Regions from separate parts of the Homo sapiens genome. Here region 2 is linked to region 1. Evidence: fine-mapped expression QTL. A gene starts in region 1. The other region holds a variant in brackets. All regions are shown on one strand. Distances are from middle to middle. Region 1 holds the start of MYB (MYB proto-oncogene, transcription factor). Region 2 overlaps MYB (MYB proto-oncogene, transcription factor).

Evidence for each region.
Region 2: its variant is fine-mapped to the expression of MYB in lung (TOPMed, PIP above 0.99). The same link has a PIP of 0.9 or more in monocytes.

The regions. Positions count from the first base shown.
Region 1 is chr6:135,179,890-135,182,797 of GRCh38, reverse strand. It overlaps MYB (MYB proto-oncogene, transcription factor), which reads right to left and starts at 1,490. Exons shown (of 16, transcript NM_001130173.2): 1 at 1,262-1,490. The coding sequence starts at 1,284. RefSeq lists silencers at 243-322, 1,372-1,421, 1,482-1,701, 1,772-1,821, 2,262-2,371 and 1 more.
Region 2 is chr6:135,203,610-135,206,517 of GRCh38, reverse strand. The region is part of intron 15 of MYB (MYB proto-oncogene, transcription factor); the gene reads right to left. The region is part of intron 2 of LOC105378011 (a long non-coding RNA gene); the gene reads left to right. Among named protein-coding and RNA genes, the nearest start is that of MYB, 24 kb to the right of the region's middle. The variant C/T (reference allele first, on the strand shown) is at 1,417.

The sequences.
Region 1 (2,908 bases):
CCCACGCTCTTTGCAACTTCCCAGCGCCGCGCGGGGACCAGCGCCCGCAGGCTCAACAACAAACCAGTAGGAGAAAATCAAACAATCTAAGGAAAGGCGAATGGATTTGCTTTGCCTCCATGGACTTCGCCTTAGAACTCCTTCGCGAGGGTCTGTCCGGTCACCGCGCCTCGGCCGGGGCGACCTAAGGCGGCTGAAGGAGGGTGCGAGAAGGCGCGGCGACCTCAGCCGCATCCACGTGTGCGCGCCGCGCAGGGACCTTTCGCCTGGGGGCAGAGCCCGCGGGGATCGCGTCCCGGTTGCGCGGCAGCGGCCTTGGGTGCTGCCGGCCTCTGTCCCCTTGAGCCGAGTGGCGACTGCGACGGCTGCCGAGCTAGCCCTGGCACCCGCCGCTCGCAGGGAGCCCCGGCGTGTGCTGCTGGGAAAGTCCAGAGGCCGGTGGAGACTGGGGAACGAGCAACTGACAGTTCGGACGAGGATTTCCCTCCTCCTCCTCCTCTCCCTCTTCCCATCTGTCCGGCCAAAAATGTGAAGGGACTGCACCCATCTTCCCGGCGAGCCTCCCTAAGTGCAGTGACATGTGCGACGGCGGCGCGTGTGGGTGCGCGTGCAATGTTTGCAGTGGAAGTAAAAGCCTTTCAGAGAAAAATGATTCGAACCTCCAAAACCAGGTCTTAAGACAATTTGCAAAAGTAGAGACCCCTTTATCCCCCTAAAATCTGCTTTTCAGCCGCCTGTCAGCTGACACTGGTCCTCGCCTCCATAAAGAATGAATGAAATTTAAATGAACTACCTGCAGCTACTAAACAATCCAGCATTTTCCCTGTATCTGCCATATGCTCTGCACTTCCAAGTCCAAACATATCTCAATGCATCCAGCAATTACGCTGCGGATCCCTCGCCGACACCCGCGGCATCAAGCCAGGCACCTGGTGGGCTCCCCGGGGCTGGTGGGCACCGCTCTGCCCTCGGCTGGAACGTGCTTTCTTTTTCCCCCTAAAGAAAAATGTATCCCCATGCAACTTGCAAAATGAGCCGCAGGGCGTGCTTCCCAACGTCCGGATACATTTCCCGCAAAGACTCTTCCATTCATCAGTCTCTGGAGCGGCTTCTGCTGCCGAGGCAGGGGCTCCAGGTCCTCGGAGGGTCTGACAGCCCCTCAGATGATCCCGGAACGAATTCCCACCTGCTCCCGGGAGCCTGGCGCCCCGCGCGCCCCCGCGCGCCCCCGCCCTCGGCCGCCCGCCCGGCTCCCCGTTACCTGTGCCGGGGTCTTCGGGCCATGGCGCGGCGGGCGCGGGGCTCCGCCGAGAGCCGCGGGGACCGCACCGGGCTGCCGCCTCCCGCTGCCCGCCGCCTGCCTGCGTCCCTCCCCGGCTGCGCAGCGGCGCTCCGCACCGCTGGGGCGAAGTTTCTCAGGAGAAAGAGGAGGAGGAGGTCACGGAGGAGGAGGAGAAGGAGGAGGAGGAAACAGGTTGATATTAAAGTGTAAACTCTGTAAACAGAGATGCCATCAAACAAAGAGCTTTGGACACTCCCCCTCCCGCCAAATCTGGCGCCCCTGCAGTGCGCACGCGCCCTGCCCGCCGCCTCCGCGGTCGCCCTGGCTGCCGCCCGCGGGGCTGCCGGGCTGGCCGGGTCGCCGCTCCCATTCGGCGCTCGCGCCGCCGCGGTGCGCCTAGCGCGCCGCGAGGCCCGGGAGGCGCGCGGGCAGGGAGCCCGGGGCCAGGGAGGGGTGGCCGGGGGCCGCGACGGCGCCTTTTCCTGAGCAAACCCCGCTCCCGGGTCGCGGCGGCGCCGACCCGCGCCCAGTCCCGCCGCCTCCCCTCCTCCCTGGCTGCCGCACCGCGGTCGCCCGGCTCCGCGTGCTCCCGGGCAGCGGGACCAGAGCTCCTCCAGCTCCCACTCACTGTCGCGGGGGCGGCAAGCGGTGGGGGGAAATTCCCGCACAGAAGATTGGATTTTCGTCAAGGTTTACAACTGTGCCCTCTGGAGACGGGGAAATTAGGAGTTGGAGGAGTAGGGGATGTGAGCATATGTATTCATAGGCTGTTTGGCTAGGGTTTTTTTTCCTTCTTCTTAAATAAATAACATCTCTAATTTAACTTGTTAGTGACAAAGGACGCTTCAATACAAGTGGGCGGCAACCATCACCGCTCACTAATGGAGCGCCCCAGCGGAGCTTTCACTCCCCTCCCGGATCCTGCAGCCGCCACCGTCGTATTGTCACATGTCCTTCACTCTCACCCCAGCACACACCCGGGCCCCACCCACCCCGCCCCGCCCGGCCCAGGCGGTGCCCACCGCACACCTTTGCTCCCCTCCCTGCACAGAGCGCGCACCCTGGATTGCACACCTGCAAAAAAAAAAAAAAAAAAAAAAAAAAAAAAAAAATACACGGGGGTCCAGACAGCCCGCCCCTAGCAGAACTCAGGAAACCCCACGTTTGCATGCATGGTTTTAGAAGTAAAACAGTTTGTGATTTTGGAGGTCGGTATCCCTGCTTAGTGTCATTTGAGGGCTCTATTTTACGAGATAAAAGTCAGCAAAGGCTTTCGTGTTGTTTAATGAGGGTCTCCAGAAGTAAAGGAAGAAGATAAGTGCTGAATTTATAAGGATTGATGACTGGGGGGATTTTAGGGGAGTTTTAGTTTTACTTCCGTTTATAGATTAGAACCATTGGGGATTTTTTTTTCATTCTCTGTACACACTAATGTATTTTTCCTTTAATCTTTTAGGAGTTTGAGACTTCTGCTGACTGGGTTTGTGGGTGTCCCATGTGCCCCAGCAGTTCAAACTTAGCTCAGAAAGCATTTTTTCTTACTAAAAAAGCATGTTCTTACTAAAATGAGTCATAATTTTATTAAACGGTGAAGCATGCGAGGTTTCAAGACTATCTGGTGTTTTA
Region 2 (2,908 bases), 24 kb before region 1:
CACCATGTTGGCCAGGTTGGTCTCAAACTCCTGACCTTGTGATCCACCCGCCTCTGCCTCCCAAAGTGCTGGGATTACAGGTGTGAGCCACCACGGCTGGCCTTAAAAAATTTTTTTTAGAGACAAGGTCTTGGTCTTGTCTCCCAGGCTAGAGTGCAGGGGTATAATCATAGCTCACTGTAACCTTGAACTCCTGGGCTTAAGGGATCCTCCTGCCCTAGCCTCCCAAGTAGCTAGGATTACAGGTATGTACCACTACACCCAGCTAATTATTATTATTATTATTATTATTTTTTTTTTTTTTTTTTTTTTGAGATGGAGTCTCGCTCAGTCACCCAGGCCGGAGTGTAGTGGCGCTATCTCAGCTCACTGCAAGCTCCGCCTCCTGGGTTCATGCCATTCTCCTGCCTCAGCCTCCCAAGTAGCTGGGACTACAGGTGCCCGCCACTACGCCCGGCTAATTTTTTTGTATTTTTAGTAGAGACGGGGTTTCACCGTGTTAGCCAGGATGGTCTCGATCTCCTGACCTCGTGATCCGCCCACCTCGGCCTCCAAAAGTGCTGGGATTACAGGCGTGAGCCACCACGCCCAGCCCAGCTAATTATTTTTTAATAGAGACTGAGTCTCACTATGTTGCCCAGGCTGGTCTCAAATTCCTGGTCTCAAGCTATCCTCCAGTCTTGGCTTCCCAAAGTATTGTGATTACAGGCATGAGCCACTGAGCCTGGCTTTATAGCAGATTATTAAAATATATCTGGTCAGTGTAAACCAGTAAACTATATGGTTTAGACAGGAGTATTGACTCTAAAATTAACTTTCAAGTCTCAATTATTCAGTTTGATAGAATTGACAAATATTACCTTCACCATACACAACTTAATCTCAGTGTACAGATGTTAGAATTCATAAAGTGCCAATATGACTCACTGATAGACAGGAGAATACAGATTAATAAAATAGAGCTATAACTTAATTTTGAGTTTCAAAGATAACCAATATTTCCATTAAATAAAATACAAATATACTGATAAAGCTCAATACTGAACTATGGGTTTCAACTTATGTAATGGTAATTGTCCCCAAGTATATTGATGTGTTGGCTTTTTGAAATTTAGAACAGACTTTTTCTGTACTACTACAAATACAAGTTGGCCCCAGACTAGGTTAGAAAATATATGCAAAACTTAATCTAACTTAATTAAAACACGAATAGCAGTAGTTGAATTCTGTTCTCTAGAAACCAAGAGCCAAGTAACTTAGGTGGGAATAATTAAAAAAAAAAAAAAAAGCAAAAGCTTTTCTTCTGGACCTAAGAACAGCTTTCAGGAAAATTTTGAAATGGCTGCCCTTTGCCTTGAAATCTTTGTAACTCCCTTTCTGGGTTCCTCTTATGTCTGGGTGGAGTTCATTCTCTTC[C/T]TCATCTCCCAATTATTTGTGATATTCTTTTTTTTGAGATGGAGTCTCATTCTGTCACCCAGGCTGGAGTGCAGTGTCATGATCTCGGCTCACTGCAGCCTCTGCCTCCTGGGTTCAAGCGATCCTCCTGTCTCAGCCTCCCGAGTAGCTGGGATTAGTAGAGATGGGGTTTCACCGTGTTGGCCAGGCTGGTCTCAAACTCCTGACCTCAAGTTATCCACCCGCCTTGGCCTCCCAAAGTGCTGGGATTACAGGCATGAGCCACTGCGTCTGGCCTCTTTGTGGTATTCTGAGTCTTCTCCACACGGGGCCAACTCCAGCCTCACTGACGCAGGAACTTGTCCAGATTCCCCATAAATACTGACTCCCTGTCTCACATTCCAGTCCACAGCCATTTTACCAAAACAATTGCTGTCAGAGAGAGGCCAGGAAGGAAGCAATCTGATTTAATTAAACAAAATGTGCTTGCAATCCTTATTTTACAATAATACTACGCACTGGCTAGGTGCGGTAGCTCACACCTGTAATCCCAGCACTGTAGGAGGCCGAGGTGGGCAGATCACTTGAAACCAGGAATTCGAGACCTGCCTGGCCAACATGGCAAAACCTTGTCTCTATCCAAAAATACAAAAAAACGGCTGGGTTGCCGGTGGCTCACACCTGTAATTCCAGCTAATTGGGAGGCTGAGGCATAAGAATCACTTGAATCTGGGAGGCGGAGGTTGCAGTGAGCCGAGATCACCCCACTACACTCCAGCCTGGGCCACCGGGTAAGACCCTGTTTCAAAAAACAAAGCAACATCAACAAAAAACCCTGAAAAACTAAGCATCACAAATACTTACCGGGCAAGTTTTCAGATTCTCACAATTTGGAAGGAGAAACTATCACAAGAATGGGAAATCCCTTTAAGGTAATGGGCAGACTCAAAGGCTGCTGTCCTATGATCGTGCCATTTAACTTACAGCAAGAAATATGACCTTCAGCTTCTGAATCCAGGCTCTTCACTTCCTCTAGGGTTATGAAGTTTCCCTCTGCATGGCACAGGGGGATGGAGGAGAGGGCTCTGCAGGTGGCTGGGTATTGGGCTATTTAATGTCAGAAACTGCTTTAAATAATTTAGGGAAGCAAAATTTGCATTCTTATTTACATTTGGCTCAGGATTAATTTGGAATTGGTTATATTTCATCAACACACACCCACTTTAGGGTTACAAGGGAAATCTCTTTTGATATTAAAACCTGACAGCAGATGGTCAACTTCAGATCGGCCTCACAACATTGACAGTTGACTTTCTTATTCTGACAGTCAAATACATTGCAATTATTTTCTGTCTGACTAATTTCAGACTTCATTTAAAATTGGAACAGTCTCTGAGCTTTGGTTGCCTAGGGATACAGCATAAAAAATAAAAAATTTGGAACATAAAGTAAACTATATTGATATATTTTTATAAAACATTTGAGGGCAGAAGAAGATAGTGACACACGTGTA